3 separate regions of the Homo sapiens genome follow, and all the other regions are linked to region 2. The links come from fine-mapping of genetic effects on gene expression. A gene starts in region 2. Each other region holds a variant in brackets. All regions are shown on one strand. Distances are between the middles of the regions.

Region 1 (11,083 bases), 85 kb before region 2:
AGCATTAAATTTAGTTTAAAAAGAGAATATTTTTATTAAAAAGATTTGAAGAATCATCTCATTTAGTTTATATACCTTTTAACCAGTTAGGGTAACATGGCTGGTAAAAAGTTGATGCTTTAATCACCCTCCTTCATATTTTCTTCTGGAATCTCATTTTTTCCACTGATTTTAGAGTTATTAGTGATTTCTCAGTTACCAAGTTTCATGGTTATTTATGAGTTCTTTTCTCCTTTGTCAGATTTGCAACATTCCACCTAATGAATCAGTTAGGTGGAATTGAAAAGAAATTTTTTCTTTCTGTTGAAAGATTAGGGGAATAGAATCTTAAACTTTTTGGCATGTATTACAGAGCTTTCCAAACAGTACAGTAATTGGATTAATTGGTGTGGATATGGGTGATTTCTTCAGCTCCTGGGCTAACAGCATTAGCCTTTAGCAGTTTCATTTACTGCTTTATGCCACACAAATGGTATTGTCTTATTTGTGCACTTTCATGTGAAAAAGATTAGGAAGCACTGCTGCATTACACTTGATATTTGCAGTGGTAATATGAAGCCTTTGCCAGTGTCTTCTTTGCCTCTTCTTCCTTCACCCCTAAATATAGATGTTCCTGAAACTTTCCCTGATTCATTTTTTATTTCTAAGATTTTTTCTTTTGGTCTCACAACTTCCAGCTGTCTTTATGTAGATGGCATCTGTATTTGCAGCTCTTCTTACTCAAGCACTAGTCTTATGGACACTGCATTATTTCTGGATATCGTTCTATATAAGCCTTCATCTCACCATCTAGAAACCAGAACTCCTGTCTCTTTTTGTTTTAAACCTACTTTCTTTCAGTTTTTCCATTTCTATTAATGACAAGATGATTCTTTCATTGCACTAAAACTTGAGTCACCTTCACATTTATTACTCAATTCTGTCCATCTGCCTTCATAATCTCTCAAAATGTTGACGTTTTAAAGTCTCCTTAATCAAGTTTTTGAGCATAGCCAAATGGTGCAGAGGCAGTTTTCTTCAGGGGCTGTATACCCTCCACTCTAGCTTTTTTTGGCCCATAATGTCCTCCCACTATGACGTTCCCAAAGAATCTCCCAAATGTGGTCCCATCCATCCCTTTGTTGTATTTACATTTTAGTATATTCTGACCTGGTTCATTAATTTAATTGAAAATTTTTAACTACTGTGTGTTACATATCGCGTTCCCTTTTCTCCATTTTTATTTGTCCTACTTTACTTTGGACGTTCCTTACCTTGCCTAGGCTAGCGAATTAACCCACTGGCATTTTTTTTCTGTTTCCATCTCTTTTCTAATTCTTATATCCAGTTGCCGTATAACAGCTGTGTTCATGTTACTCCCCTACCTTCCATACTGAGTTCAGTTTAAGCTCCTTAGTCTTCTGAATCATGCATTTTCATTTTTTTCCCTCCTGTATAACATTCATTTCAGCTCAACTATCTGAGTTCCAGTGCTTTTTTTCTACCTTAGTTTGATGCTTTTGGTCCTTTTGTTTCTTGAGGATGGAATGTTTTCCTCTTTAATTTCCCATCTCTGTGTCTCATATCCTTTCAGACCCAATGTAGATACCACTTCTTCCACAAAGCCTTTCCTTATCCCCTTTACTGACAATGGTATGATCCTCTGAATCCTCAAAGCACTCTATCAAAACTATTCTTATTTGTGTTTTTTCCTGCATTTTAGTAACTTATATCTAATGAACTGAAGTTTCTTAGATATAAACCTAGTAGATTTGTAGAATGAATGGTCCATGAACTTCTGTTGCACATGGGAAAGAAGCAAATAGCTTAGTGGTGGAGATCATGTACTCTAGAGGGAGAATGCCTGGGTTCAAATCTTGGCTCTAGCCATTTAGCTATGTCATACTGGGTAAGTAACTTATCTTTCTGGGCCTTACTTTTCCAGTTTACCACCTAAGAATAATAATAGTATCATCTTCATAGGGGAGTTGTTGTGACTTTGAGATTAGCTTTATCAAGTGTTTATAACAGTACCTGGCACATGGCTGAATGAGTGCAACTCTGCCTGCTTTTGATTGAAGTCATATTTTGTGACAGTTTCTGTTGAAGACTGGGCACCAAGCTAGACCACTTCATGTGCATTTTGGAGATAAAAGTTTTATCTAGCATTGCAGCTGCAAAGCCCCTCCTCTCTCTCTTCACTTTGTTGGTTTCCTTTTTATCTTTACTTCGGTGTTTTTCATTTTGTAGACGCTTTCTGTAATAATTGGGTCAATTGCTTGAAGTTGTTTGTCAAAAGGCAAACCCCCTTTTACAACTATAAATATTCCATGTTTTTCCAGTTAAAAAATCAATTTGTAATGCATCTGAAATTCTGTATGTTGTAGCACAAAGCTGTAGAGATCAATTTGTTTTTCTTAATGTTAACGTTATTCTCCCAGAAATGTTTATTATTATTTTCCCTATTTTATTTCCTTTCATATTTGAAATTTACTAATTTATAGCTTTAAAAATATTTTTTGTCTTTTTGTTTTTATCCAGTATCAATAGGTTTAGACACATGCTCATTTTTTTTAGTTTTTCATATTTATTTTTAAACTACATACTTTCTCTCAGTATATTCCTTAATATTTGAATTGTCAGTTGGGGATTTTAATTGACATTATACTAAGTCTATGAGTTTACTTAGGAAATATTTTCAACTTCAGTGAATTCGATAATGAAGGTGGATCTGTTTGTTCTTTTAGTCAGTGTTTTTTCCTTTTCTTCTTCCTTCCCTCCTTTTTCTTCTTTTTTCTTCCCACTTACTCACTTAGTTTTGACTCCTTTAATAGTTATTGCTCTCTGGTTCTTTTAAATCCCCATTAAGTTAATCTTCAAGCATTTATTGTGTGCATAAATGGGATATCTTGTTATACCTCTTGTTAATAAAGAGTTGTTTGAAAAGGATTAAACAATAATTGAGATACCATTCTAATATTATTGAGGTTTTAAAAAAATGTCAGGCCTTCAATAATTGCTCATGTATGTATTTTCTTTCAATAATACTGTTTAACATACATCTCCAGTTGTGTTTTTTCTTTCTTGTTCTCCCTTGATAATCTCATATTAGGAAATGGTAAACATAAGGGTCATATTAGGACATTCCTGGGCCCTAGGCACTTTTGTCTTCTTGGGCTCCTCTTTCTATTAAAAAAATTAAAAATATTTTATGACTACATTGTTTTAAGGAAAAATATATTAGTATTATATATTAAAACATTTTCTTTGAAGCAAAAGTTCACTTTTTTCTTCTTGTTTTAAAAGAAATAAAACATTTACGTGTACTTCCAAAATTATT[G/T]TGAGTCCTAGGCCCTGTGCCTACATGCATAAGCGTTTACAGAATTGGGTTACATATTCACAGATCAACTTAGTAATAGAAAATTTTAGGTTTCTTTCAGGTGAGCACTAAACTGTGGGATACTTATGGTGGCATTCCTAATATGTTATTTGTTTTTATTTTTGTGGTAAATTATATATACAATAAAATTAACTATTTTAAAGTGTTCACTTTAGTAGGATTAAGTATACTCACATGCCCGCTGTCTGTCTCCAGAACTTATCCATCATCCCAAACTGAAACCCTGTGCCCATTAAACAATAACTCATCCCCCTTTCCTCCAGCTCCTCTTAAACATTTGTAGTTTGCCTTTAATATTTTAAATTATTTTATAATTAGTATATATGGACAACTTATAGAAATCTGGTTTATGTTTTGGAGGAAACTGTGATTGGATATGGGTTGCTGATGGTCGCATAAGAATGTTGAACAGTATTGTAGGCTGCCATTGAGGTATTCTAAATACCTGATGTGCTTTAGAGAAGACTATAACATGTAAGTGGGTTGAGAGGGAAAAGAGGACATGAGTTTTCCAAAGACAAATTCAGGTAGAGTCTTTTGAAGTAGAGGAATGTTGTAGATTGGAATGCAGTTCAGAAGTGATTTGTGTTTCAGGCAACAATCTAGATTTAGAAAAAAAATTATTATTGCTATTTGGTGTTAGCCTGAAATTTTGTAAAGTGCGGCGATCTTTTTAAGAGGACAGATTCAGAGATGGTGGAAGGACTTTAGGAGGAGCATTTCACTTTCAGTAATATTGTATTTTTTAAATCAAAATGATTTGTAACTAGTAATATATAGTAGAATCATTTAGAGGATAAATAAAATGAAATAATTCATATTATTTTAACCTTTTTTTCTCTTTTGGCTTCTTTTTTTAAAGTCATCTGTCTTAGAATTATGGTAGTTTGAAAAATATTCTTAGGTTTTAAAGGGGGAGAAAAGAGCTATTATTGTGAAGTTTCATTTAGTCAGAACTGTGACCAGGAAACATGGCTCTCAGTGGTGTTGTGAAAAATTTTTCTTAATTCCTTCTCTTAAAAAGGAAAAAACCAGACAAACCCATTTTCTGTTCTTTAAACTCACATATACATATGCATATGCATATATATTTATGTTTGTTGATTATATAAAGTATTTATTTCTTTTAAAAATAAGTATGTATTCACATGGCTCAAATGTTAAAACAATTTAAAAAGATGGACATTGACAAGTCTAATTCCTATCCCTGTTTCGCTGCTCTCATCTTCTATAAGTTACCACTTACGTAAATTTTGTATCTTTCCATTCTTTTACACAAATGTGAATACATTTTCCCCCCATTTACATGTAATAAGAATGTTGTATATATTCTTCTGCATTTATTACTTAATTACTTATCGTTACTTATTGACTACTTATTGTATCCTGTCAGTCTTAGAAATGTATTTCTTTTAAGTCTATTAGTATTGGACAAATTTGGAAATTATTTTCTAGTTTAACATTAATTTTGGTTAGTGGCATGTAGAATATCTAACACATATACATAATTACTGAATGAAAATTAGTAATTTTTAGTAATTATCTCAATTTCAGAAAGCCTACTAGATGTAATCCCTGTTTACTTCATTTAAGTTGTAGTTTCTTTTTAAATCTTGAAATACTTGATTATACCAAACCTAAAACTTTAACAAACATTCTGAAATTTTTTTCTAACGTCTCAAGATATTCACATGATTTCTACTGCGCAATTTCCAGTGTGTGAGTAACTAGTGAAGAATGCCCAGCCAATTAGGTCATATGATGGGCTGAACAGCCTTCATTTGTTTAGAAATCAAGAGAACTTTCACAATGATAATAGCCGTTTTCTTTAACATGTCTTCACATAAATAATTTTTCTATGTTAGTGTTGATTGATTTGTTTATATTTATGTAAACATAGACGTGAGGATAAATACTGATTATCTTCAATAACAAGTTAAAATTAAAGTTCTGTAATTGACCTCTAGATTAAGTTTTGCTGTTATTTTATATGTTAACTGTCTTTGCTTAGCTTTAGCCAAAGATATAGTTGACTAAAGGTGGAAAACATCATGTAACTTTTTCTTTACCCGACTAATGGATATGTTTTGGTACTAAATTTATTCTAACAGAATGAGAAAGATCATATGATAGTCATTATTGGTGTTTTGTGAAAAATACAAATGTAAGCCTTTGGGAAGGAGTTTGTTAAAAATGTTTTTCCTTGGCTTTGTATTTTTTTTTTTTTTTTTTTTTTTTTGAGACAGAGTCTTGCTTTGTTGCTCAGGCTGGAGTGCAGTGGCACGATCTTGGCTCACTGCAAGCTCCGCCTGCCGGGTTCACCCCATTCTCCCGCCTCAGCCTCCTGAGTAGCTGGGACTACAGGCACCCGCCACCATGCCCAGCTAATTTTTTTTTGTATTTTTAGTAGAGACGGGGTTTCACCGTGTTAGCCAGGATGGTCTCGATATCCTGACCTTGTGATCTGCCCGCCTTGGCCTCCCAAAGCGCTGGGATTACAGGCATGAGCCACCCTGCCTGGCCTTTGGCTTTGTATTGTTTTGTCCTGGACTGGACTGTGACTATTTCCGGCCTTCAGTAGGAAGTTGAAAGAATATTTCCTGATTTTTGTAAGGGAAAAATAATCTCTGAGCTGGATATTCTAGAGTTGAAAGGACAGCATCAGTAGAGAAACAGACCTCTTTCAAGTCTTTTTTTCTTCCTATAATCATATCCTCATTTTACAGGACTTTATCATCAAAGTCTTTTAAATGCTCTTTTAAGAATAATCGTCACTTATTGACTACTTATTGTTTGCTAGACTCTGTTACAGTGCCCTATGAACATTTTGTTTGATTATCACAGCAGTTCTAGGTACTGTAGATTCTCTCAACTTTCAAGTGAGAAATCTAATTGATATTTAGGATTCTTTTATATAACTTAAAATAGCGGAAGTGTTCCAGCAGAGTTAAATAATTTTTTTTTTTTTTTGAGACAGAGTTTCACTTTTGTTGCCCAGGCTGGAGTGCGATGGTGCGATCTCAGCTCACTGCAACTTCTGCCTCCCAAGTTCAAGCGATTCTCCTGTCTCAGTCTCCTAAGTAGCTGGGATTACAGGTGAACGCCACCATGCCCGGCTATTTTGTATTTTTAGTAGACATGGGGTTTCAACGTATTGGTCAGGTGGCCTTGAACCCCTCACCTTGTGATCTGCCCTCCTCAGCCTCCCAAAGTGCTGGTATTACAGGCGTGAGCCACCGCATCCAGCCCATAGAATTTTTTTTTTAAAACGTGATCTTGATTTCCATGTTTCACTCAGTTTCGTAACATGGCAGAATTTCTTTAATTCGTTTCATTCTCTTTGCGTTCGTCATTTTTTCTTTTATTTGTCAAATACTGAATGCCAAATATCATGCTTTGGCTATACAGTGGTGAATAAAGCAGGCATAGCCTTTGCCGTCAATGGTGCTAATATTCTAATGGTGGAAGATGTGAAATAAACAGATACTAACAGATGATGGTCAATAGCTAAGAAGCTAGTAACCAGAGTGCTATAATGGAAAATAAAAAGGTAGACTGGTATGAGGGGGTTACGTTTATGCTATAATTTTAATGTTGAAAAGAGACAGAGTTCAAAGCACTGCATCCCAGAAAGAAGCAATAGTCTGTAGGTGAATGCTGAATGCTACAAGGTAGAGAAAACTTGATGCCTTCTAAGAACTTGAAAGTTACAGAGTAGCTGGAGCAGAAGTCAGTTGCCCTGAATGAGCGCAGAGCTGGGTTTCAGAGTGAGTTAGAAAAATAGAAGATGATGGTTGGAAGGTAGGATCCTTTAAATTAAAACTATAGAGGGTTTTCAGTTATTGGTAATGACAAGGTCTGATGACTCCAAGGTCCATCGGAGTTAATAAGATGTGATAGAAGTTGAAAAGCCAAAGTGTTGAAAGCATCACTTACACTGTTATTAAAAGCTCCAAGAATTAGGACAGGAGTGATGTTGGAGAGAGAGGCAGTGATCCAGTAGCTAAAATAATTGACAGGTGAAGGGGCATTTGAGATTTTTAAATAAACTGCAACATGAGGGGACTGACGTGATTGGAGCTGGGCAGTTTTAGGAAAGAGGGAGAGTGGTTTGGAAGAGGCAAGGGAAATGAATGCACATTGCTTAGCATAATGCATATTGAACAGATAGTACAGAGGTCAACTCCGACACAATTTCCCCAATTATTCACATATTTCATTAGTGTATATATTTGTTACAAGATATGAACCAATATTGATACATTACTATTAACTAAAGTCCATAGTTTGCATTAAGGTACACTTTGTTTTGTACAGGTCAATGGGTTTTGACAGTGTATATAATGACATGTGTCTACCATTGTGTAATGCCACGTATCTGTCATTACAGTACCATGCTGAATAGTTTTATCACCTTAAAATGACCTGTGCTCCATCTGTTCATTCCTTTCCTTCCTCTCTTTGCACTTTAAACAGCCACTGATCTTTTTACTGTTTACAAGTTTATCTTTTCCAAATGTTGTGTAATTGGGATCGTAGACTATATAGCCTTTTCAGACTGGCATCTTTCACTTACCAGTATGCATTTAAGGTTCCTACGTGCCTTTTCGTGGCTCAGTAGTTCATTTCTTCTTATTGCTGAATACTCTTCCATTATATGGATGTTCTACAGTTTGTTTATTAACCTACTGAAGGACATCTTGTTGGCTCCCAGTTTTGGTGATTTTTAATAAAGCTGCTATAAACATGAATTTGCAGCCTTTTGTGTTGACATCGTTTTAAGTTCAGTTGGGTAAATATGTGAGAACATGATTGCTAGATCATATGGTAAGACTGTTTATCTTTGTTAGAAGCCACCAGACTGTCCCCACAGTCTCAGTATGGTTTTGTTTTTTACATTCAAGTCTTTGATCTATTTGGAATTTATCCTGTTAGGCAGTATGAAGTATGGTTCTAACTTTATTCTTTTCTATTTGGCTACCAAATATCCCAACACCATTTACTGAATCGTCCATCTTTTTTTCTTCTGATTTGAAATATTTCTTTTATATATTATATTTGCATATGTATTTAAGTCTGTTTTTCTCTTTTGACCCGTTGGTATGTGTCTAAACACATTCTGCTACCACATGGTTTTAATTATTAATATGTTTTGACATTTGGTAGGATATGGTCTTGAGGTTTTTTTTTTTTTTTCCGGAAATGTTGTTTTAGATATTCTTTCCCCTTCCTACTCTCATTAAATAAACTTTCAAATTGAGTTGGCTGGGTTAAAAACAAAACTTTCTGTTTAAATTGGCCTAGTTTTAAATTAACAAATTTATGTCTTTATGATATTAAATCTTCCTATCCGAGAACATAGCATCTCTTTTTGTTTATAACCTTTAGTAGTGTTTTTAAGTTTTCCTCTTAAAAGTCTTGTACATTTTTTGTAATGTTTCGTCTGAGGTATTTTGTCCTTTTTGCTGCTGTTTCAGTGGGGTTTTTCTTTCACTGATTGGGAATTTCCCTTCTTTTTCTTTCTTTCTTTTTTTTTTTTTCTGAGATGGAGTCTCGCTCTGTCACCCAGGCTGTAGTGCAGTGGCGCAATCTCAGCTCACCGCAAATGCCGCCTCCCAGGTTCACACCGTTCTCCTGCCTCAGCCTCCCCAGTAGCTGGGACTACAGGCACCCGCCCCTATGCCCTATGCCCGGCCAATTCTTTTCTTTTCTTTTTTTTTTTTTTTTTTTGTATTTTTAGTAGACACGTGGTTTCACCATGTTAGCCAGGATGGTCTCGATCTCCTGACTTCGTGATCCGCCCATCTCGGCCTCCCAAAGTGCTGGGATCACAGGCGTGAGCCACTGCGCCCAGCTGGGAATTTCCCTTCTTAAAGGGTAGACGGGATTATAGCATCTGTGTATCTGGAAGAGAATGATGCACTTTGAGGGGGAAATTGAGATGATGATTCAGGAGAGAATTGGGATAACAACAGAAGTCAAGTTGTTGACTAGGCAATAGGGAATGGGATCCGATGCGAGCTGATTTTTCTATCTTTACTTGCCTAGACAATGATTTTACTTTTTTATTTTACTAAGTCTTAAAAACATCGTATATTTTATAGAATGAGACTTATAGAATTCTGATGACTGTTGTGCTTGTTTTGCAGATGAGAAAACTAAAGCCCTGAGATTTTTAATGTGACTTGTCTAAAACGAGTGAGCAGAGGCAAAATTAGAAGTCAGATTTCTTTACTTCCCATTTTATGTTTTTTTCTACCTTCACTGTGCTGTGTGCTTAGGTGCTTGTATGAGCAGTTATATTTGAAGGTTAAAATTATGAATCAAGACATACCAATCTTACATTAAAGTTTTTGGTGATTCCTCTCTCCCCATACGTTATGTTACATTGTGTTTTGTTTGACTGAAATATACCTTAGTGTTACATGGTCTAGAAAACTCAAAATATCATCGTACTGAATTTAATCCTCAATATTTTAGTTCAGCATGTAGAAGTTTAGTTTATCTGCTTTTCTAATGAAGTCCTTTGGGACTTACATGAACATGTTTGTTAAATAATAGTCAAATAACATCACTGTATATATTTATATTCACGTTCCATTATCTCATAAGAAATGCCTACTTAATAAGCTTAACATTAAGGGAATAATTTGATATTTGTACTCTATATTTTGCTCCTTTTATATGTTGTGTGGATTATGTTTTATGTAATGTATGTTACAAATCAAATTTGCATTTTGAATATGTTCAGTATATAAAGATTGCATTATTTCTGTTGTGATTTCTTTTGTACTTTTATATTAGAATTCTCTTACAGTCTGTGACATGCCTTCATGCTTATGAAAGGCATCTAAATAAGGCTCTACTCAGTATTCAAGGAGCATTCATATTATCTCTTAATTTCTAAAAATATTTAGTTCATTCAGCAAAGATTTGAGTTCCCATGTCTTTTAGCTGCTGTGTGTCTGCTAGGTCCTGGTATACTAAGACCTATAAAAGCTATGCATGCACATACTCCTCCTTCCTCCAATATAGACGTACATATGTCCTTGAATGGTAAACCACAGTAAAGCTTTTTTTGTAGCATTTTAGATGAAGATGTAATGTTTAAATCACTCTAAAATAACTTTGAAAGCTACAGTTGTAAAAGCAAAGATAAAAAATGAAACATTTTTGTGCTTTCAAGAACTAACATTGTTGAGAGTCTCTAAATCCCTGGCATGAGTCTAGGAGTTTTGTATTAACATTCTGATAAGGAGGTATTAGACATCTCCTCTTTTACAGATGAGGTCTGTCAAAGCTTCAAATCGTTTTTCTACTGTATCACAATGCTTCTTTTGTTTAGTAATGGTTTTCAGCCTGGGTGGTATTGCTCCATTAGGGATGGTTTCAGGTGTCCCATGACAGGCGGGTTACTACTGATGTTACTGATGTAGTAACTAGCAGGGATCAGGGATGCAACATGCCAGATAGTCTTTCACTAGTGTCCTTGTACGTTTTTAGTCTGACATAGGTTATTAGAGGTTAACCATGCAAACATATTTGTTAACCATGTTTTTTATTATTGCTATTGATAATTTTTGTTTTGATCATTTTTCTTTTATATTTGCAATACTTTTAGGCAAATACCCTGTTATTTTGTTATGTCCTGAGAGAGGGATAATGAAGAGGTGATATCCTCATTTTGAAAAGTTGATTGGTCTA
Region 2 (11,083 bases):
AGCGATGCTTCCTCTTCAGTCTCCTGAGTAGCTGGGACTACAGGCACACACCTCCATGCCCAGATAATTTTTGTATTTTTCATAGAGATGGGGTTTTGCCATGTTGTCCAGGTTGGTCTTGAACTCCTGGGCTCAAGCAATCTGCCCACCTCAGCCTCCCAAAGTGCTGGGATTACAGGCATGAGCCACTATGCCTGGCCGTCTCCACTTCTCTTATACTTCTCTTGTGCATTCCTTTTTTCCAGGAATACATATTAAGGGACCGTTGTGTGCTTGGCACTGTGCTGAGAAATGAGGATGCACAGATGAAAAGCAGATGCTCTCTGCCTTCCAGGAGCTCACGGTTTTGTGAGGGACCCAGTGTGTAAATGAATGGTATAAGAACATTTTATCATTTGTGCTACCCTACAAGTATCCAAAAGATGTTTTGAGCCTGGGCACAGTGACTCACGCCTGTAATCCCAGCACTTTGGGAGGCTGAGGCGGGTGGATCACTTGAGGTCAGGAGCTCGAGACCAGCCTAGCCAACATGGCGAAACCCCATCTCTACTAAAATACAAAAATTAGCTGGGCATAGTGACTGATGCCTATAATCTCAGCTACTCTGGAGGCTGAGGCAGGAGAATCGCTTGAGCCTGGGAGGCGGAGGTTGCAGTGAGCCGAGATTGCGCCACTACACTTCAGCCCAGGTGACGGAGCAAGACTCTGTCTCAAAAAAAAAAAAAAAAGGTGTTTTGAGAAAGGAGGGATGACTTAATTCCGCTTGGAAAAGCAGAGTAAGAAAAGGTTGCACAGAGGAGCAGGAGAGAAAACAAGGGTCTGTAGAAGGATGAAGCTTCCCTTTTCAGCCTTTTCCTATGAAAGCAGGAGAGGATGATCCAATTCCACCCAAAGGCCCAGCCAGAAAACAGTGGTTCAAACCTGTCTCCTGTCTTCTGCTTGCCTCTTGACTATTTCGCTGCTCTTAGGTACTACCGTTAAAAGGATAATTGAAGTGCAGTTTGATTATTTGGCTTCTATAAAGTAAGGGAAATCAAATTGGTGGAGGATAGATTTTAAAAAAAAGCACAAAATTGTTATTGAACTCCCTCCACCCCACTTCACCCATGCTCTAGGGACAGCCCTGTGAACAGTTTGACAAGTATCTTCCTGGATTTTAAAATTTACGTAGAAACCTACAACTACAATATTTGAAATCAAAAAGATTGTACCACTGATGTTGTTAGACATAGTATCTGTATCTTGCTTCTCTGTCCCACCCTCTTCCCTATCTTACTACATCATGAACATTCTTAGAACTATTTTTCCTTGAAAAAAATCATTATTATTTTTAGAGGCAGGGTTTCCCTCTGTTACCACAGGCTAGAATGTATTTGCTGTTCACAGGTGCAATCAAAGTGCACTGCAGCCTCGAACCCCTGGGCTCAAGCAATCCTCCCACCTCAGCCTCCCTAATAGCTGGGACTATAGGTGCATGCCACAATGCCTGGCTAAATTTTTAATTTTTTTTTTTTTTTTTTTGGTAAAGACAGGGTCTTGCCATGTTGCCCAGGCTTGTCTGAGACTCTTGGCCTCAAGCAATCCTCTCACCTTGGCCTCCCAAAATACTGGGATTGCAGTATTTCACTGCACCCAGCCAGAACAATTTTTCAAAGGAAATATTATTACACTATACAGAGAAAATTGCTGTAGCAATATACAGCTACCGCTTTGAGTCAACAGAAAGACTGATACAAAGCTTACCTCCTCTGAGAAGGCTTCTCTGATAAACTGTGAGTTTTTTCCATCCTTTCCCCTGTATTTTCTGGTAATTTTCCATGGGGTTTCTGAATGGTATTTGGCCTCTGCTCATAAACACACTCCTTTGTCTTATTCTCAAGCCCTTTCTCTAGCAAAGAAGAAAGACCACCTTTTGTAAGGGCACATGTGAGCTGGAAAGTTCAACAACTCAGACACCTGTAAAGACTGGTCTTTCTTGGCATGCTTGCTTCTCCCTGTTGATCTGTCCTAGCCTTCTCACTCCCAGGTTCCTTGCTCAACTCACTCTTCTATTCCCTCCCCGCCTGGCTTCTATTTGTTCATTCATCAGATAGAATTGACAACATGCCAGGAGTGGAGGTTCCAGCCCGTAGAGTTTGGCTTGCTCTAATTCTGACTCAAACTCATGACCTTCTTTAGCTCCACTTACCAAATTCTCCCCATGTTTCTGAGTTCAAATTCCTAAGGGTGAGAATCCGATTGACCTGGTTTGTGCCAGGCTACACATAGATGGCTGGACACTCTATGGCCCAGGACCCATTCATTCAAGAAGATGTGGCTGAAGAAGGGAGATGGACTGTGGGCAGGTCACCCTTCCCAGTCCTAACTCGCCCAGAGTACTTACTCCACCAGTGTCCTCGGGTCTTTGCGGGGCACTTGTGTTATCTCCCTAAGCAGAACGTGAGTTAACAGGGACTGCCGTGATCTGCACGCAGGAAGTGTTCAAAGGACAATGCGAACACATGCAACTGTTTCTTTACATGGAGTTGGACTTGTGGCAGGCAGAAAGTGAGAATCACAGCCTTCCTCCTAAAGAAACCACAGCCAGTGACCAGGGCATTCCAGGAGGTAGAAAACACTGGTCACAGGTCACGTCACATGAGTGCTAACACTCATGGGGTAATCTTGTAAAGGTGACCGGAAGCAGTGGCTCACACCTGTAATCCCAGCACTTTGGGAGGCCGAGGTGGGTGGATCACTTGAGGCCAGGAGTTCGAGACCACCCTGGCCAATAGGATGAAACCTCGTCTCTACTAAAAATACAAAAATTAGCCAGGTGTGGTGATGGGTGCTTGTAATCCCAGCTATTAGGGAGGCTGAGGCAGGAGAATCGTTTGAACCCAGGAGACAGAGGTTGCAGTGAGCTGAGATTGCACCACTGCACTCCAACCTGGGAGACAGAGCGAGACTCTGTCTCAAAAAATTAAAAAAATAAAGGTGGAGGAAGATTATGAATCAGAGGAATGTTACAGGCGGGAAATAGAAAGCTAGTGCCAGTTTTAAATTCTCATAAATGGAAATAAAAATTGAGCATTCAAAATGGAATTTTAGGCCTGGGTAAGAGACTTCTTTCTCCAGAGTCAAGCTATTCAATAACTCTCTTCAAATGCTCAATAATTCTTATTCATACACAAAATTTGTAGCAGAAATTATGATTCAACAGAGTGCTAGTGACTCAAGATGGACTGTTAGGAGGTTAAAATATAATTCATATCCAGTATCATTTAAATAGGCATTTTCATCAGGGATGATACTGACAATTGATGTCAGTGATAAGTTATTAGAAGTAGTTGACAACTGGGTGCAGTGGCTCACACCTGTAATCCCAGCACTTTGGAGGCCGAGGTGGGTGGATCACCTGAGGTCAGGAGTTCGAGACCAGCCTGGGCAACATAGCAAAACCCTGTCTCTACTAAAAATACAAAAATTAGCCGGGCATGCTGGCGCATGTCTGTAGTCCCAGGTACTCGGGAGGTTGAGTCAGAAGAATCGCTTGAACCCGGGAGGTGGAGGTTGCAGTGAGCTGAGATTGTGCCATTGCACTCCAGCCTGGGTGACAGAGTGAGACTCCGCTTCAAAAAAAAAAAAAAAAAAGTAGTCGACGACAGAACCGCTGCTCAGATGGGCCTCCACCCCATCCTTTCATATTTTATCATTGTTCCTCTCAGTCTCTTCTTTGGCTTGAAAGAACTTCTGCTAAACTTCAATGGATTCAAAATCCAAGTTCAAATAACATAACTAGATGGCTTGAAGAACCTGCTGACTAATTGTCTGGCAGTGGGAGGGCAGAAGGCATCAATCCTCAGGGCCACACCAGGAGCCTCCGATGCACCCTGGAAGTCCAGCAGCGCAGGGCCCCTTCTGCCGGGGGCCTTGAGAGAGAGAAGCCTAGAGAAATACAGGTCTGCATCAGTGTGACAGCAGGTACAGGGAAAGCCACAGAAGGGACGGGGCTCAATGTCTGCTGCTGCGTCGCCTCCCTCATCACTCCCGCTCCATTTGTGTTGGCCAGGGGGCTCTTACCTCTAGCCCAGGCTCCTCTCTGGTTCCCAGCTGTACTCCTGCCTCCAGGGTAACACTGCTCTGTCCTTCCTCCACATCAGCATTGAACCTCCTTTCCAGATGACCAAAGGACTGCTGTGTTCAGAAAACCTTGCTTTTTCACTGCCGGCTACACACCCCCACCAAATCCTTAATGGGACACGCCATTCTTACCTCAACCTATTTTGTTGTTGTTGTTTTGAGATAGGGTCTCGCTCTGTTGCTCAGGCTGGAGTGCTGTGGCACGATCACAGATCACTGCAGCCTCAACCTCCCAGGCTCAAGCAATCCTCCCACCTCAGCCTCTGGAGTAACTGAGACCACAGGCAAGCGACACCGTGCCTGGCTAATTTTTGTATTTTTTGTAAAGAAGAGGTTTCACCATGTTGCCCAGGCTGGTCTCAAACTCCTGGCCTCCTCAAGCTATCAACCCACCTTGACCTCCTAAAGTGCTGGGGTTACAGGTATGAGCCACCCCACCTGGCCCCCAAACTATTTTTCTAACATTGCCTCCTCCTGTTTCCTGCTGTGCCACACCAGATTTTCACTAACCCCTGCAGCCTCCTTGGCTGTGTCTGAAATGTCACCGACACCACAGTGCCCCCGTCCATCCTGACCGTGCTTATGTGCCCATCCTCTTCCCACAACCCCAAGGTGAAGCAAGGTGAAGTTCACCTGTGTCCCTGTAGCACTTCATTTACACTCTTCTGGCCTTGGTTTTTTGTTGTGGTTCCTCATTTTATCTCCTCCATTGGACCTCAAGCACTTTCAGAACAGGAACTGCTGTCATTCATTCATCTTCACACCCTAACACATACTAAAATGCTCATTGTAAGTGCTCTAGTATGTTTTTCTTTTCTTTTTTTTTTTTTTTTTTTTGAGAAGGTGTCTTGCTCTGTTGCCTAGGCTGGAGTGCAGTGGCATGATCTCAGCTCACTGCAACCTCAGCCTCCTTGGTTGAAGTGATTCTTCTGCCTTAGCCTCCCAAGTAGCTGGATTACAGGCATGTGCCACCACGCCCCTCTAATTTTTGCTTTTTTTTTTTTTTTTTGAGACGGAGTTTCGCTCTTGTTGCCCAGGCTAGATTGTAATGGTGCAATCTCGGTTCACTGCAACCTCCGCACCTCCCAGATTCAAGCGATTCTCGTGCCTCAGCCTCCCAAGTAGCTGGGATTACAGGCATGCACCACCACACCCGTCTAATTTTGTATTTTTTTCGTTTTTTGTGCAGATGGGGTTTCACCATGTTGGTCAGGCTGATCTTGAACTCCTGACCTCAGGTGATCTGCCTGCTTCAGCCTCCCAAAGTGCTGGGATTACGGGTGTGGGCCACCGTGCCTGGCCTTAATTTTTGTATTTTTTAGTAGAGACGAGGTTTCACCATGTTGGCCAGGCTGGTCTCGAACTCCTGACCTCAGGTGATCTGCCCGCTTCAGCCTCCCAAAGTGCTGGGATTACAGGTGTGAGCCACCATGCCCGGTCTCAAGTATGTTTTTCAAAGGAAGGATATTCATGGAGACAATTGTCATTCTTTAAACATTTGATATGCATTTGAGCTAGTCACAGATAGCTGTTAATGTGTAAATCTTGATAACAGGCTTCTAATGTCACCATTTCAGTTTCCTGTGCAGCAAAACAAAAATAACATTAATTTGTGTTATATGGCAACTAATGCACAATAATGAATAAATATCTTAAGTATTAGGGAGAATCCTGGTTAGAGAGTTGATAAAGTGAATACAAACTCCCTTTTCAAGCACTTGAAAGGGAGGGATGGTTTTCCAAGATGAAGACTTAGGTTTGAGTATCTCCCTTTGCCTGAATTTGCTTTTATGTAAAAATAGAGGGTTGGATTCTATCTATTCCCCTTTAACTCTAAAATTATATTATTCCAGCAGTTTTACTTAACAAGAATTGACTATCACACAAATGGTTTTGTGCTAACGTTAGCAATAAACACCTTTTTAAAACCCTGCTTTTACCCATGCTCCCGGGCATGCTCTAAAGTTCATTTGACTTCTAATAATGGATGTGCAAATATGTTGAGTGATCACTTCCACAATGGTCCTGTTCCTTTAAGAGACCACGGTTGTTAAGTTAGGAGATCATTGAACCATATGAGGGTCAATAAAAGAATAAAAAGTCACTGGTTAGCGATTCGAGGACAAGGAACTTGATCCCAGTTCAGTGTCTGTGGGTCCATATGCTGCCCACAGTCAAAGAGGGAGTCCCAGGTTCTTGGCAGCTTGCTTTTCCTCAGGATGGCTTCTGGAAGGCTCATTAAGTTCGTGGTTTTTGAGCTCCTAGAGTTTGCCGCTTTCTCCATCCCCACACTCGTGATCACAGAACAGTTTGCCACCGCCTACCAAGGAACAAGGGCTAGATCTGACAACACACACTACTGGCTGATCATCTCCTGTTCTATTGCCTATGTTGCGTTAGTGACTCTACTGATCTGGGTTCCTGTAAAAGTTATCCTGCACAAGAAACGTTATATTTACAGAAAAATTAAAGGATGGTAAGTAAAAGAATTTTCTTTTTTTTCTTTTTGATTTGGAGTCTCGCTCTGTCACCCAGGCTGGAGTGCAGTAGGGCAGTCTTGGCTCACTGCAACGTCCGCCTCCTGGGTTCAAGTGATTCTCCTGCCTCAGCCTCCTGAGTAGCTGGGATTACAGTCGCACACCACCACACCTGGCTTATTTTTGCATTTTTAGTAGAGACGGGTTTTTGCCATGTTGGCCAGGCTAGTCTTGAACTCCTGACCTCAAGTGATCTGCCTGCCTCAGCCTCCCAAAGTACTAGGATTACAGGCAGAAGCCACAATGCCCGGCCTGTAGAAGAATTCTTTAGTAGGGAATCCCCATGATGCTGTCAAAGATACGTTTGTTTGTTTGTTTTTTTGTTTGTTGTTTGTTTTAACTTTAAAGTTCAGGGGTAAAAGCGCAGGTTTGTTACATAAGTTAACTTGTGTCATTAGGGGTTTGTTGTACAGATTATTTCACCGGCATGCACCACCATGCCCAGCTAAGTTTTGTACTTTTAGTAGAGACGGGGTTTTCATGTTAGCCAGGCTGGTCCCGAGCTCCTGACCTCAAATGATCCACCCATCTTGGCCTCCCAAAGTGCTAGGATTACAGGAGTGAGCCAACACGCCCAGCCTGTAAAAGAATTCCTTAGCAGGGAATCCCCGTGATGCTTTCAAAGATATATTTGTTTGTTTGTCTGTTGTTTGACTTTTAACTTTTAAGTGCAGGTTTGTTACATAGGTTAACTTGTGTCATGGGGATTTGTCGTACAGATTATTTCATCACCCAGGTATTAAGCCTAGTACCTATTAGTTGTTTTTCCTGATCCTCTCCCTCCCACCGTTCACCCTCTGGAAGGCCCCGGTGTGTGTTGTTCCCCTCTGTGTGTGCATGTGTTCTCATCATTTAGCTCCCACTTATAAATGAGAACATGTGGGATTTGGTTTTCTGTTCCTGCGTTAGTTTGCTAAAAGTAATGGCCTCCAGCTCCATCCATGTCCCTGCAAAGGACATGATCTTGTTCTTTTTCATGATTGCATAGCATTCGATAAAGTATATATGCCACATTTTCTTTATCCATTCTATCACTGATGGGCATTTAGGTTGGTTTCCTGTCTTTGCCATTGTGAATAGTACTGCAACGAACATACGGGTGCATGTGTCTGTATAATAGAATGATTTATATTCCTTTGGGTATATACCCAGTATTGAAATTGCTGAGTCGAATGGTATTTCTGTCTTTAGGTCTTTGAGGAATCACCACACTGTCTTCCACAATGGTTAAACTAATTTAGACTCCCACTAACAGTGTATAAGTATTCCTGAAAGATATGTTCTAACATACTGTGGGTAAGGATGTGAGCAGAGCGTAAGGATAGAATGTGACATTAATGGGAGGCTACAATTACTGCTTCTGTGAATGTATGGATATTATGGTATCTTCCTTAATTTTTCTACAGTCATTTATACTGAGTGATAATAACACATGAGATGGGTTAGTAAGACTGGAGTTTGTGCCAGTTCATGCTATTCTAAGTAGTAAATGTTGGACTTAATTCTCCTGGACACTAAATTACATAAACTTATCGGAGTGAGCTTACACAACTCATAATCAGAAGATGGTAATGTAGAATTTTAATTTTGCGTAAAACTGAAAGTAATGTCTATTTTTAATTATTTACATTGCATTTTGCAGGCTTACGTCATACTTTGACCATTAACTACGACTTTTAAAACAACTGGTTCCTTTAGACTTTTTATTTACTTATTTTTTATTTTGAGACTGGGTGTGGCTCTGTTGCCCAGGTTGGAGTGCAGTGGCGTGATCATTGCTCACAGCAGCCTCAACCTCCCCAGGGGGCTCAGGTGATCCTCCTACCTCGACCTCCTGAGTAGCTGGGACTACAGGTGCACACCACCACACCCGGCTACTTTTTTTGTGTTTTTTATAAAGATGAGGTTTTGCCACATTGCTCAGGCTGGTTCCAAACTCCTGGGCTCAAACAATCCACCCGTCTTGGCCTCCCAAAGTGCTGAGATTACAGGCGTGAGCTGCCAAAGCTGGCCTACTTAGACTTTAAAAATAAATAATTTACTGTGTTGGTAAATTCTGTTACCCTTGTAGGGGAGGAAAGTACTTCAATAACAATACAGAGATATTTTAAATAAATCAGGATTTAATGTTAATTTAACTAGCAGTTTAGCTAATGGGTATACTGATCCACATAAGGGTATTGAGAACAAATAGTCTCTGATATTAATGTATTTTTCCTTTTAGATCTTCAGATCTGATTCTTACTCATCTTGGACTTCTCTCTTTTCTTTAATAAGTTAATATAAGCTAATTTTTCTTTCATACTGATGTTTTATTTATTTATTTATTTATTTATTTATTTGAGACAGAGTTTCACTCTTATTGTCCAGGCTGGAGTGCAGTGGCACGATCTCAGCTCACTGCAACTTCCGCCTCCTGGGTTCAAGCAATTATCCTGCCTCAGCCTCCTGAGTTGCTGGGATTACAGGGTCCTGCCACCACTCCCGGCTAATGTTTTTTTTTTTTTTTGTATTTTTAATAGAGACAGGGTTTCTTCATGTTGGCCATGCTGGTCTTGAATTCCTGACCTCAGGTGATCTGCCTGCCTCGGCCTCCCAAAGTGCTGGGATTATAGGCATAAGCCACTGCTCCCGGCCGATGTTTTATTTTGAAAGCGAATGACATAGAACACATGTGAAAAGTGAGGCACTGGGAATTTGCACATCCACGCAAGGGCAGAAATGTAAAAATAATAGACTCTGCAATAGAGCTAGAAATACCATTGCTGAGGTTGGGAGGATGCTGATGGAGAGCTGACATGTGAAGTTCATGGTGCTGTCTTTAGGTACCGATCCCAGATGTGGCTACTTCTGCGAACCTTGCCAGGAGACTTTCATTTTCCCGAAAGCAGGGGTCTTAAGGGGTTTCTGGAAATAAAGCATTATGTTGTTGGCACTGCTTTTATCAGTAGGGTTTAGGGGCTTTCCAAACCTTGACCAGAGCCCCAGGGTCACCTAAGGGGTAGCTTGGAGCTGGGCTTGACCCTCCACCTCTCACACCCTGTAGGGGTGGCTTTGACTGTCCAAGATTCCTGGCTGGGTTGGAATTTTGAGGGAATGGTGGAAGGTTCAAATGACAACAGGAATAAACCAATGGGAAACTGGCCCACCACAGCCCAGGAAGAAGCTCTTGGGTTTTTTTGTATTTTGGTTTTTTGTTTTCACATTGACTCAAATCCCTAAGACTCTAGATTCTGAATGTCATTTAGGCAGCAAACCTTCCCATATAACTTACTGTTATTATTATTAGGCTATAATTGATTCTTTATAGATCACTGATTATGTGCCATGTAAGTACTGATATGAGGTGGTACAGAAACACGTACTTCATAGGCCAGGCACAGTGGCTTACACCTTTAATCCCAACACTTTGGGAGGCCAAGGTGGGAGGATTGATTGAAGCCCAGAGTTAGAGATCAGCCTGGGCAACATAGTGAGACCTCGTCTCTACAAAACATTACAAAATCAGCAGGATGTGGTGGTGCACGCCTGTAGTCCCAGCTATTCAAGAGGTTGGCTTGAGCCCAGGAGTTTGAGCCTGCAGTGATCTATGATTGTGCCACTGCACTCTAGCCTGGGTGACAGATGGAGACCCCCAACTCTGAAAAACAAAAAGACAGAGAAATATCTACTTCACCTCATAAAGTATTTTTTTTCTTTTTGAGATGGAGTCTAGCTCTGTTGCCCAGGCTGGAGTGCAGAGGAGCGATCTAGGCTCCCTGTACCTCTGCCTCCCAGGTTCACACGATTCTCTTGCCTCAGCCTCCTGAGTAGTGGGGATTACAGTTGTGCACGACCACACCCGACTAATTTTTGTATTTTTAGTAGAGATGGATTTTCCCCATGTTGGCCAGGCTGGTCTCGAACTCCTGACCTCAAGTGATCTGCCCGCCTCAGCCTCCCAAAGTGCTGGGATTACGGGCATGAACCACTGTGCCCAGCCTAAAGTAGAATTTTTATGAGTTTATCGTTATTATTGCCTAGAGAAAATTGCCGATTAGAGAGTTTCAGCAGCTCTCCCAAAGTCAGTGAACTAGACAGAGTGGAAGAGGCAGACTTTGGACCTAGGTCTACCTGACTCCATAATGGGTACTTCTAGCCACTGTCCCAAACTGCCTCTTTGAAGGACAAGGTCCCATTCTCCTGGGGCAATTGAGAGTTAAGGAACAGAGTAGGCTTTTGTTTCTGCCCCTTAGTGCATGTGGTATACCAGTCATCTCTGGTGTCTGTTCAGATTTCATGTTGTGCATCTGGCTCAGGTACCTCCCCTGTGCTAAAGTGTTTCGGGTTGTCATGACTACATCTCTCAGTGATTTCTTTTGGGAAATACACTTCCAGTCTTTAGTTTCTGTTTTGCCGGTGTTGCTGGCCACACGTGTTTTAAA
Region 3 (11,083 bases), 29 kb before region 2:
GGCGGGCGGATCATTTGAGGTCAGGAGTTCGAGACCAGTCTGACCAACATGGTGAAACCCCGTCTTTACAAAACTACAAAAATTAGCTGGGCGTGGTGGCAGGCACCTGGTAATCCCAGCTACTCAGGAGGCTGAGGCGAGAGAATTGCTTGAACCTGGGAGACGGAGGTTGCAGTGAGACGAGATCACGCCACTGCATTCCAGCCTGGGAGACAGAGTGAGAAATAAATAACTGTAATGTAAACTGCTGTGAAGCAAATTCTATTTCTCTTTTTTTAAAAAATAAAATTTGAGATTGGTTTTCCGTAAAATAGTGACACGTAAATGGAAAAAATCTAATCCAGTTACGAACTAGCATATATAGCCAACAGGCCCATGGCCTGTGATGTTATACCAGTGCCCTGAACCTGTAAGAGGATTTCTAATGCATACCTAATGTGACTTTACAGCCTCTTCTAACTCCGTCTTTCTCCTTCACTGTTACCTATCTTCCCTATGCAGCGAGGGAACTTTTTATGTGCCTAAGATTCCTTTTTTCATGTACTTCTGGTGCTTTGTTTCTATACCTCATAGTTTTTGTATTTAAAATGCTTAATAGACCAGTGTCTTTTTTCTCTGATACATACAGCTTTCCTATGCGATATGTATAATTCAGTTTGAAGACATGTTTTTTCCGAAGCTTCAAGTTGATGTGAGACAAATTAGCACCCTACACGATAAACTATGCAACTATAAAAATTATGGAAATTGCCCATGCCTGTGTCCTGAATGGTAATGCCTAGGTTTTCTTCTAAGGTTCTTATGGTTTTAGGTCTAACGTTTAAGTCTTTAATCCATCTTGAATTAATTTTTGTATAAGGTATAAGGAAGGGATCCAGTTTCAGCTTTCTACATATGGCTAGCCAGTTTTCCCGGCACCATTTATTAAATAGGGAATCCTTTCCCCATTGCTTGTTTTTCTCAGGTTTGTCAAAGATCAGATAGTTGTAGATATGCGACATTATTTCTGGGGGCTCTGTTCTGTTCCATTGATCTGTATCTCTGTTTTGGTACCAGTACCATGCTGCTTTGGTTACTGTAGCCTTGTAGTATAGTTTGAAGTCAGGTAGCGTGATGCCTCCAGCTTTGTTCTTTTGGCTTAGTATTGACTTGGCGATGCGGGCTCTTTTTTGGTTCCATATAAACTTTAAAGTAGTTTTTTCCAATTCTGTGAAGAAAGTCATTGGTAGCTTGATGGGGATGGCATTGAATCTATAAATTACCTTGGGCAGTATGGCCATTTTCACGATATTGATTCTTCCTACCCATGAGCTTGGAATGTTCTTCCATTTCTTTGTATCCTCTTTTATTTCCTTGAGCAGTGGTTTGTAGTTCTCCTTGAAGAGGTCCTTCACATCCCTTGTAAGTTGGATTCCTAGGTATTTTATTCTCTTTGAAGCAATTGTGAATGGGAGTTCACTCATGATTTGGCTCTCCGTTTGTCTGTTATTGGTGTATAAGAATGCTTGTAATTTTTGTACACTGATTTTGTATCCTGAGACTTTGCTGAAGTTGCTTATCAGCTTAAGGAGATTTTGGGCTGAGACAATGGGGTTTTCTAGATATACAATCATGCCATCTGCAAACAGGGACAATTTGACTTCTTCTTTTCCTAATTGAATACCCTTTATTTCCTTCTCCTGCCTAATTGCTCTGGCCAGAACTTCCAACACTATGTTGAATAGGAGTGATGAGAGAGGGCATCCCTGTCTTGTGCCTGTTTTCAAAGGGAATGCTTCCAGTTTTTGCCCATTCAGTATGATATTAGCTGTGGGTTTGTCATAGATAGCTCTTATTATTTTGAGATACTTCCCATCGATACCTAATTTATTGAGAGTTTTTAGCATGAAGGGTTGTTGAATTTTGTCAAAGGCCTTTTCTGCATCTATTGAGATAATCATGTGGTTTTTGTCTTTGGTTCTGTTTATATGCTGGATTACATTTATTGATTTGCATATATTGAACCAGCCTTGCATCCCAGGGATGAAGCCCACTTGATCATGGTGGATAAGCTTTTTGATGTGCTGCCGGATTCGGTTTGCCAGTATTTTATTGAGGATTTTTGCATTAATGTTCATCAAGGATATTGGTCTAAAATTCTCTTTTTTTGGTTGTGTCTCTGCCAGTCTTTGGTATCAGGATGATGCTGGCCTCATAAAATGAGTTAGGGAGGATTTCCTCTTTTTCTATTGATTGGAGTAGTTTCAGAAGGAATGGTACCAGTTTCTCCTTGTACCTCGGGTAGAATTCGGCTGTGAATCCATCTGGTCCTGGACTCTTTTTGGTTGGTAAGCTATTGATTATTGCCAGAATTTCAGAGCCTGTTACTGGTTTATTCAGAGATTCAACTTCTTCCTGGTTTAGTCTTGGGAGGGTGTATGTGTTGAGGAATTTATCCATTTCTTCTAGATTTTCTAGTTTATTTGCGTAGAGGTGTTTGTAGTATTCTCTGATGGTAGTTTGTATTTCTGTGGGATTGGTGGTGATATCCCCTTTATCATTTTTTATTGCATCTATTTGATTCTTCTCTCTTTCCTTCTTTATTAGTCTTGCTAGTGGTCTATCAATTTGGTTGATCCATTCAAAAAACCAGCTCCTAGATTCATTAATTTTTTGAAGGGTTTTTTGTGTCTCTATTTCCTTGAGTTCTCCTCTGATTTTAGTTATTTCTTGCCTTCTGCTAGCTTTTGAATGTGTTTGCTCTTGCTTTTCTAGTTCTTTTAATTGTGATGTTAGGGTGTCAATTTTGGATCTTTCCTGCTTTCTCTTGTGGGCTTTTAGTGCTATCAATTTCCCTCTACACACTGGTTTGAATGTGTCCCAGAGATTCTGGTACGTTGTGTCTTTGTTCTCGTTGGTTCCAAAGAACATCTTTATTTCTGCCTTCATTTCGTTATGTACCCAGTAGTCATTCAGGAGCAGGTTGTTCAGTTTCTATGTAGTTGAGCGGTTTTGAGTGAGTTTCTTAATCCTGAGTTCTAGTTTGATTGCACCGTGGTCTGAGAGACAGTTTGTTATAATTTCTGTTCTTTTACATTTGGCGAGGAGAGCTTTACTTCCAAGTATGTGGTCAATTTTGGAATAGGTTTGGTGTGGTGCTGAAAAAAATGTATATTCTGTTGATTTGGGGTGGAGGGTTCTGTAGATGTCTATTAGGTCCGCTTGGTGCAGAGCTGAGTTCAATTCCTGGTTATCCTTGTTAACTTTCTGTCTCGTTGATCTGTCTAATGTTGACAGTGGGGTGTTAAAGTCTCCCATTATTAATGTGTGGGAGTCTAAGTCTCTTTGTAGGTCACTCAGGACTTGCTTTATGAATCTGGGTGCTCCTGTATTGGGTGCATATATATTTAGGATAGTTAGCTCTTCTTGTTGAATTGATCCCTTTACCATTATGTAATGGCCTTCTTTGTCTCTTTTGATCTTTGTTGGTTGAAAGTCTGTTTTATCAGAGACTAGGATTGCAACCCCTGCCTTTTTTTGTTTTCCATTTGCTTGGTAGATCTTCCTCCATCCTTTTATTTTGAGCCTATGTGTGTCTCTGCACGTGAGATGGGTTTCCTGAATACAGCACACTGATGGGTCTTGACTCTTTATCCAATTTGCCAGTCTGTGTCTTTTAATTGGAGCATTTAGTCCATGTACATTTAAAGTTAATATTGTTATGTGTGAATTTGATCATGTCATTATGATGTTAGCTGGTTATTTTGCTCGTTAGTTGATGCAGTTTCTTCCTAGCCTCGATGGTCTTTACATTTTGGCATGATTTTGCAGCGGCTGGTACCGGTTTTTCCTTTCCATGTTTAGCGCTTCCTTCAGGAGCTCTTTTAGGGCAGGCCTGGTGGTGACAAAATCTCCCAGCATTTGCTTGTCTGTACAGTATTTTATTTCTCCTTCACTTATGAAGCTTAGTTTGGCTGGATATGAAATTCTGGGTTGAAAATTCTTTTCTTTAAGAATGTTGAATATTGGCCCCCACTCTCTTCTGGCTTGTAGAGTTTCTGCTGAGAGAGCTGCTGTTAGTCTGATGGGCTTCCCCTTTGTGGGTAACCCGACCTTTGTCTCTGGCTGCCCTTAACGTTTTTTCCTTCATTTCAACTCTGGTGAATCTGACAATTATGTGTCTTGGAGTTGCTCTTCTCGAGGAGTATCTTTGTGGCATTCTCTGTATTTCCTGAATCTGAATGTTGGCCTGCCTTGCTAGATTGGGGAAGTTCTCCTGGATAATATCCTGCAGAGTGTTTTCCAACTTGGTTCCATTCTCCCCGTCACTTTCAGGTACACCAATCAGACGTAGATTTGGTCTTTTCACATAGTCCCATATTTCTTGGAGGCTTTGTTCATTTCTTTTTATTCTTTTTTCTCTAAACTTCCCTTCTCGCTTCATTTCATTCATTTCATCTTCCATCACTGATACCCTTTCTTCCAGTTGATCGCATCGGCTCCTGAGGCTTCTGCATTCTTCACGTAGTTCTCGAGCCTTGGCTTTCAGCTCCATCAGCTCCTTTAAGCACTCCTCTGTATTGGTTATTCTAGTTATACATTCATCTGAATTTTTTTCATAGTTTTTAACTTCTTTGCCTTTGGTTTGAATTTCCTCCTGTAGCTCGGAGTAGTTTGATCGTCTGAAGCCTTCTTCTCTCACCTCGTCAAAGTCATTCTCTATCCAGCTTTGTTCCGTTGCTGGTGAGGAACTGCGTTCCTTTGGAGGAGGAGAGGTGCTCTGCTTTTTAGAGTTTCCAGTTTTTCTGCTCTGTTTTTTCGCCATCTTTGTGGTTTTATCTACTTTTGGTCTTTGATGATGGTGATGTACAGATGGGTTTTTGGTGTGGATGTCCTTTCTGTTTGTTAGTTTTCCTTCTAACAGAGAGGACCCTCAGCGCAGGTCTGTTGGAGTTTGCTAGAGGTCCACTCCAGACCCTGTTTCCCTGTGTATCAGCAGCGGTGGCTGCAGAAGAGCAGATTTTCATGAACCGCGAATGCTGCTGTCTGATCGTTCCTCTGGAAGTTTTGTCTCAGAGGAGTACCCGGCCGTGTGAGTTGTCAGTCTGCCCCTACTGGGGGGGTGCCTCCCAGTTAGGCTGCTCGGGGGTCAGGGGTCAGGGGTCAGGGACCCACTTGAGGAGGCAGTCTGCCTGTTCTCAGATCTCCAGCTGCGTGCTGGGAGAACCACTGCTCTCTTCAAAGCTGTCAGACAGGGACATTTAAGTCTGCAGAGGTTACTGCTGTCTTTTTGTTTGTCTGTGCCCTGCCCCCAGAGGTGGAGCCTACGGAGGCAGGCAGGCCTCTTTGAGCTGTGGTGGTCTCCACCCGGTTCGAGTTTCCCGCCTGCTTTGTTTACCTAAGCAAGCCCGGGCAATGGCAGGCGCCCCTCCCCCAGCCTTGCTGCTGCCTTGCAGTTTGATCTCAGACTGCTGTGCTAGCAGTCAACGAGACTCTGTGGGTGTTGGACCCTCTGAGCCACGTGCGGGATATAATCTCCTGGTGTGCCGTTTTTTAAGCCCGTCAGGAAAGCGCAGTATTAGGGTGGGAGTGACCCGATTTTCCAGGTGCCGTCTGTCACCCCTTTCTTTGACTAGGAAAGGGAACTCCCTGACCCCTTGCACTTCCTGAGTGAGGCAATGCCTCGCCCTGCTTCAGCTCGCGCTCGGTGCGCTGCACCCACTGTCCTGCGCCCACTGTCTGGCACTCCCTAGTGAGATGAACCCAGTACCTCAGATGGAAATGCAGAAATCACCCATCTTCTGCGTCGCTCACGCTGGGAGCTGTAGACCAGAGCTGTTCGTATTTGGCCATCTTGGCTGCCTCTCCAGCCAAAAGCAATGGCAACAAAAGCCAAAATTGACAAATGGGATCTAATTCAACTAAAGAGCTTCTGCACAGCAAAAGAAACTACCATCAGAGTGACCAGGCAACCTACAAAATGGGAGAAAATTTTCACAACCTACACATCTGACAAAGGGCAAATATCCAGAATCTACAATGAACTCAAACAAATTTATGAGAAAAAAACAAAGAACCCCATCAAAAAGTGGGCAAAGGACTTGAACAGACACTTCTCAAAAGAAGACATTTATGCAGCCAAAAAACACATGAAAAAATGCTCACCGTCAGTGGCCATCAGAGAAATGCAAATCAAAACCACAATGAGATACCATCTCACACCAGTTAGAATGGCAATCATTAAAAAGTCAGGAAACAACAGCTGCTGGAGAGGATGTGGAGAAATAGGAACACTTTTACACCGTTGGTGGGACTGTAAACTAGTTCAACCATTGTGGAAGTCAGTGTGGCGAGTCCTCAGGGATGTAGAACTAGAAATACCATTTGATCCAGCCATCCCATTACTGGGTATATACCCAAAGGACTATAAATCATGCTGCTATAAAGACACATGCACACGTA[T/C]GTTTATTGCGGCACTATTCACAATAGCAAAGACTTGGAACCAACCCAAATGTCCAACAATGATAGACTGGATTAAGAAAATGTGGCACATATCCACCATGGAATACTATGCAGCCATAAAAAATGATGAGTTCATGTCCTTTGTAGGGACATGGATGAAATTGGAAATCATCATTCTCAGTAAACTATCGCAAGAACAAAAAACCAAACACTGCATATTCTCACTCATAGGTGGGAATTGAACAATGAGAACACATGGACACAGGAAGGGGAACATCACACTCTGGGGACTGTTGTGGGGTGGGGAGAGGGGGGAGGGATAGCATTAGGAGATATACCTAATGCTAAATGACGAGTTAATGGGTGCAGCACACCAGCATGGCACATGTATACATATGTAACTAACCTGCACATTGTGCAGAAGTACCCTAAAACTTAAAGTATAAAAAAATTATGGAAATTATTTTCCAAAATGAAATTTATTGGTATAATTGCTCAAATTTTCATCTGTTTAATATACAGTGAAGTCATCATTTTCTTTTCTCATCTATTTTCTTGGTTTACTTTCCAGTTCTAATAATTATAGCTTGCCTTCTGTTACATCATTTTAAAAATATTTAATAACAAAGCTATGGTTTATAAAGTTTTCACTTGTATCGTTTTCCTTTTTATTTCTTTTTTTGGATTAACTACTTGTACGCCTTAGAATAAAATATATAGAAGAAACTTACCTAAATATTTCTCAAAGGCCTTATGTTCAATTATCTTTTATTTTAGCATCATGATTCCATTAAGTGTTCTTATCAATTACCTAGGTTGTTTTCTGTATTCTTTATATTGACATGCCCACCACACGCCCACGTTTTTAAGCAAAGCTGCCTTCATTGTATTATCTGTATTCTTCCTTAGAATGGTCTTCTTTCGAAATTACTTAGTACTTGATAGTATCTTTTTCTGAAAATTTCCAGGCTTCAAAAATGCTCTTCCCTATGATGTTCTAGAACACTTTAAATCTCAGTATTTCAGTATTTAAAACTCTAGATTTCCTTGATGAACAAAATTGAACATTTTATTGGTGCTAACTTGTGGCCAAACTACACTTTGCCAGTTCTCTGATTCCCTGGCATCTGCTAACACTTACCACTGTCATTACTGTCTTTTTGCTGCTGCTGTTACACCTAGAATTTCTGATAATAAATTATTAAGAGTCAGTAAACCCCTGGATAAAAGCAAAAGGGACTGATTTTAATGGTCTTTTGGTGGTCAGAGACTTAGCAAAAGTCATGTCTGTTTTATAGAAGAGTAGTATCCAAATTTTTTGATTAGATACCCTGATGAGTAACAAATTTTTTGAGTGTGTAGCCTTAAAAATATGTATATATATTTATTCACAAATTTTACAAGTTCTACTATATAAAAGCATATTGTACATTATGAAACACACCAAAAAATAGAAATCTTAAAAGGGTGAGATAAAAAGTTATTAATAGAAATTTAAGTATTTTCTTTCTATATCTTAGTGGTTTGTTTTCTCTGTGCCCTAGGATGTATGAACCTGATTTGGAGACCACTTTGTTGAGAGGCTAAGATTAAACAGGCAGGGGATGTAGAATGTTACTAAGTTGGTCCCTTGAAGTAAGTATCTGTTACTTTAAGTGGTACTTTCTCAAAAAATTGTTGGGAAATTTTCATACTTACAGAAAGATTGGAAGAGTGATAACACTGAACATCTAATTACTATTCATCTAGATTTGCTAATCATTAAAAATTTGCCACGTTTGTTTTATCTCGTGTATGTTTATATATGCACGTGTGTGTGTGTATACATATATATATATAGGAGTGTTCTTATGTATATACACACATACTTTATTGTGTGAACTGACACATTATAAACATTGTAAACCATATTTCTAAGTTCTTCATCTTACGTCTTGTAAGGATTTGGACAGTTTCCCACATAACCTAAACCATTTTCACATCTAAGAAAATTAACAGTAATTCTGTAATATATTGTTATTGAATGTCCCTCAAACTGTCTTTTATAGATATGTATATATTTTAAATCCAGGATCCATTCCAGGAATATATACCCACACTTCTAATGTCCTTTGATTCTCTACTAATCTGGGTTAATCTTGTCATCTCCCCCTGATGCTCCACGACATTGACTTTTTAAACACCCCTGCCAGTTGTATCGTAGAATTTCTTACGTTCTGGATTTCTGACTTGATGCTCTATTCTCTTTGCCTCTACTGTAGTACTTATTCCTAAAAGAATTACGTCAGAACCAGATGAGTTCTGGTTAGAGGTAATCAGATTAGATTTTTCAGGCTTGCATCGGAAGCTGCACACATAAAGGAACGTTGTTAACCCTAACATGTAGCTGCTCTGTGATAGCCTGTATCCTCAAGCCATTGATGCTGCCGTAGCTCAGTACACTTTTATGTTCTTCATCTTGAATTGCATTCAGAGAAGCTGCAGAAAATTTGTGCCCTTTCCCCATTCAAACCCTACTCAGCTTTTCTCCATTTGTTCAATACCCACCTTATTCACTCTGGATGGCTTTTAGGTAACTCTAGAAATGTAACCAGCAAATAGAGTTCTATGTTTTTAGATGCAAACATTTTGGCACGTTTGTTTTGAAAGACTTCTCATGACCCTAGTCATAACCTTCTGTTAAAATAGGGAAATCACTGAAGGGGAGGGAAAGCCCTTTCTTTTTAAAAGTTATCATTGTTACTTATTTTCCTCAAGTTGGTAACTAAATTGGAAGCAGACTGAATAAAATATATAAACACAGTCAATTTTGAAACACATGCACATTACAGTAACATATGCCGTCAGCTTATTAAAGAACTAGTTTGGGACTTGTTTCAGTTGGTTAATGGCATTTAAAAAGTAGAATAAATGTTTGTAATCAGTTGTTTCTATGGCAGGATACATCAAGTTTCTTAACTGCAGGGTGATCACATTATCTTGTTACTTTAGAAAAAGATATGCTGTATAAACAGTTAAGAATGTTTTCGGTTAATTATAGGTGATATTGTCTGTTAGCCAGGTAAGATGCAAAATAGGAAAATTTACGTGAGACATCCATGTATGGTTATTTTTCTCTGAACCAAAAATGGAAAAAAAATCTGTTTACTGTTTCAGAATTTGTTTCTATTTCTCCAGAGAAAAGAAGGGTTTGATATAAGTATCTTTGATATTCTGTAATTTAAAAACATAATACCCTGTAAAGGAGTGGCTGAAAATGACTGAAGAAGTTGTAATCAGGAATACAGGTAAATTCACTTAGAGGAACCATTATAACAAGTTCATTTCTATAAAAGGTGGATGGCTCATGAAAAAATGGTTTCATTAATTTGTATTGTAAATGTATCATACTTTTGTGAGTACGTGGATTTCTTTTAAAGAAAGGGGTGGATAGTGGTGATGGTATTTGGGGTTGAAGATAAGAATAAGAACTAAATTAAGTTGTAGGAATTTACTTGTCCATTCTGCTATTAAGTGGAAATTTCAGCTCATGGCTGTAGGAATTCAGAGAACTAGACTTTAATCCAGGTATATCTTTTGTCAAAAGAATATCTTGGTAGATATGTGATTTGGGGCAGCTCCATGTATCTTTCTGGGTCGTCTACTTATTTATGCATTGTAAGGCTAATGTAACATGATCTTTTGTAGCTTGTATAAATTTTCTGTTTCATATCATCTACCTCTGCCTACCTTAACTATCCCTGCCATTCAGCCTGAATAGTTCACCTATGTCACTGAATGGACCTGGGTACCATGGTACTGAAACTTGGGTGCATGATTTCTAGCATGTAGTTATAGCAGTGTACTTTCTGAACGTAACCTGGGGGTACTTTATCTCCATTCGTATCTGGTGAGCCTTTTGTTCTGAGTGATTTTATCAGGAACATCTGCATTCCAAGTAGAAGCGCTTCAGCCATAGTACTTTAACTTTCATTGGTGTTGATTTGAAAACAGAAAAATAAATAGTTGTAACTCTGGGACAGATACTGTATTTGTATACTGCTTCAAACTAAAGGAGGTAAGTAGCATCAGACTACATGAAATTTTATTCTTGATGTTCTTGTATGCAAAGTGGCATCTTGGTCTTGGTGAACTGAAAATGTTAATGTCACCAGTATACTACACTTGCCGTTCTTTAGCTGTTGTATTGCTGAGATGCTAGAGTACTATGGAAACTAGTAGTTTCCATCTTTTGTGCTGGCTAAAATTGTCTACCAAGTAAGGTGCAAAACCAGCAGTGATTTTTTTTTTTTTTGCATCACAAATATTTGGCCTAGAAAAATGCCATTATATACTGCTTAGTTACAAGTTATTAATATAAATAAGTATTAAAGTAGACATTAAATTCAAGGAAGGTTGTTTTTTTTTTTAAAATCGGCTTTTTTCTTGTGTTGTCAGTTAAATTTATCTATTATTTTATATAGTTTTATAAAACAATTCCACAAATAAAGAATACTTGTTTTTAGTTTTCCTATTTGCACTTTAGAAGATTAGATACCATGCTGGCATCTAAAAAGCTTTCCTTAAAGTTTATATTATTTAATGGAATCTGATGAAGAAGTTGGGGCTTACTTCAAGTACTAAGTAAACTGGATAAGGCTTT

Which allele goes with the higher level. Positions count from the first base shown, and alleles are read on the strand shown. Sizes are in standard deviations (SD) of each study's normalised expression. Not every link is listed here.
For the expression in neutrophils of the gene that starts at base 6,247 in region 2, allele T in region 3 goes with a higher level than allele C (moderate effect, 0.67 SD a copy in BLUEPRINT).

The links.
Region 1: its variant is fine-mapped to the expression of TMEM236 in whole blood (TOPMed, PIP above 0.99).
Region 3: its variant is fine-mapped to the expression of TMEM236 in neutrophils (BLUEPRINT, PIP 0.95).

What each region holds. Positions count from the first base shown.
Region 1 is chr10:17,660,795-17,671,877 of GRCh38, forward strand. All of the region lies in intron 2 of STAM (signal transducing adaptor molecule), which reads left to right. Among named protein-coding and RNA genes, the nearest start is that of STAM, 22 kb to the left of the region's middle. RefSeq lists an enhancer at 10,295-11,049. The variant G/T (reference allele first, on the strand shown) is at 3,320.
Region 2 is chr10:17,745,955-17,757,037 of GRCh38, forward strand. It overlaps TMEM236 (transmembrane protein 236), which reads left to right and starts at 6,247. Exons shown (of 4, transcript NM_001098844.3): 1 at 6,247-6,598. The coding sequence starts at 6,342.
Region 3 is chr10:17,717,131-17,728,213 of GRCh38, forward strand. No RefSeq gene overlaps it. Among named protein-coding and RNA genes, the nearest start is that of TMEM236, 30 kb to the right of the region's middle. The variant T/C (reference allele first, on the strand shown) is at 6,442.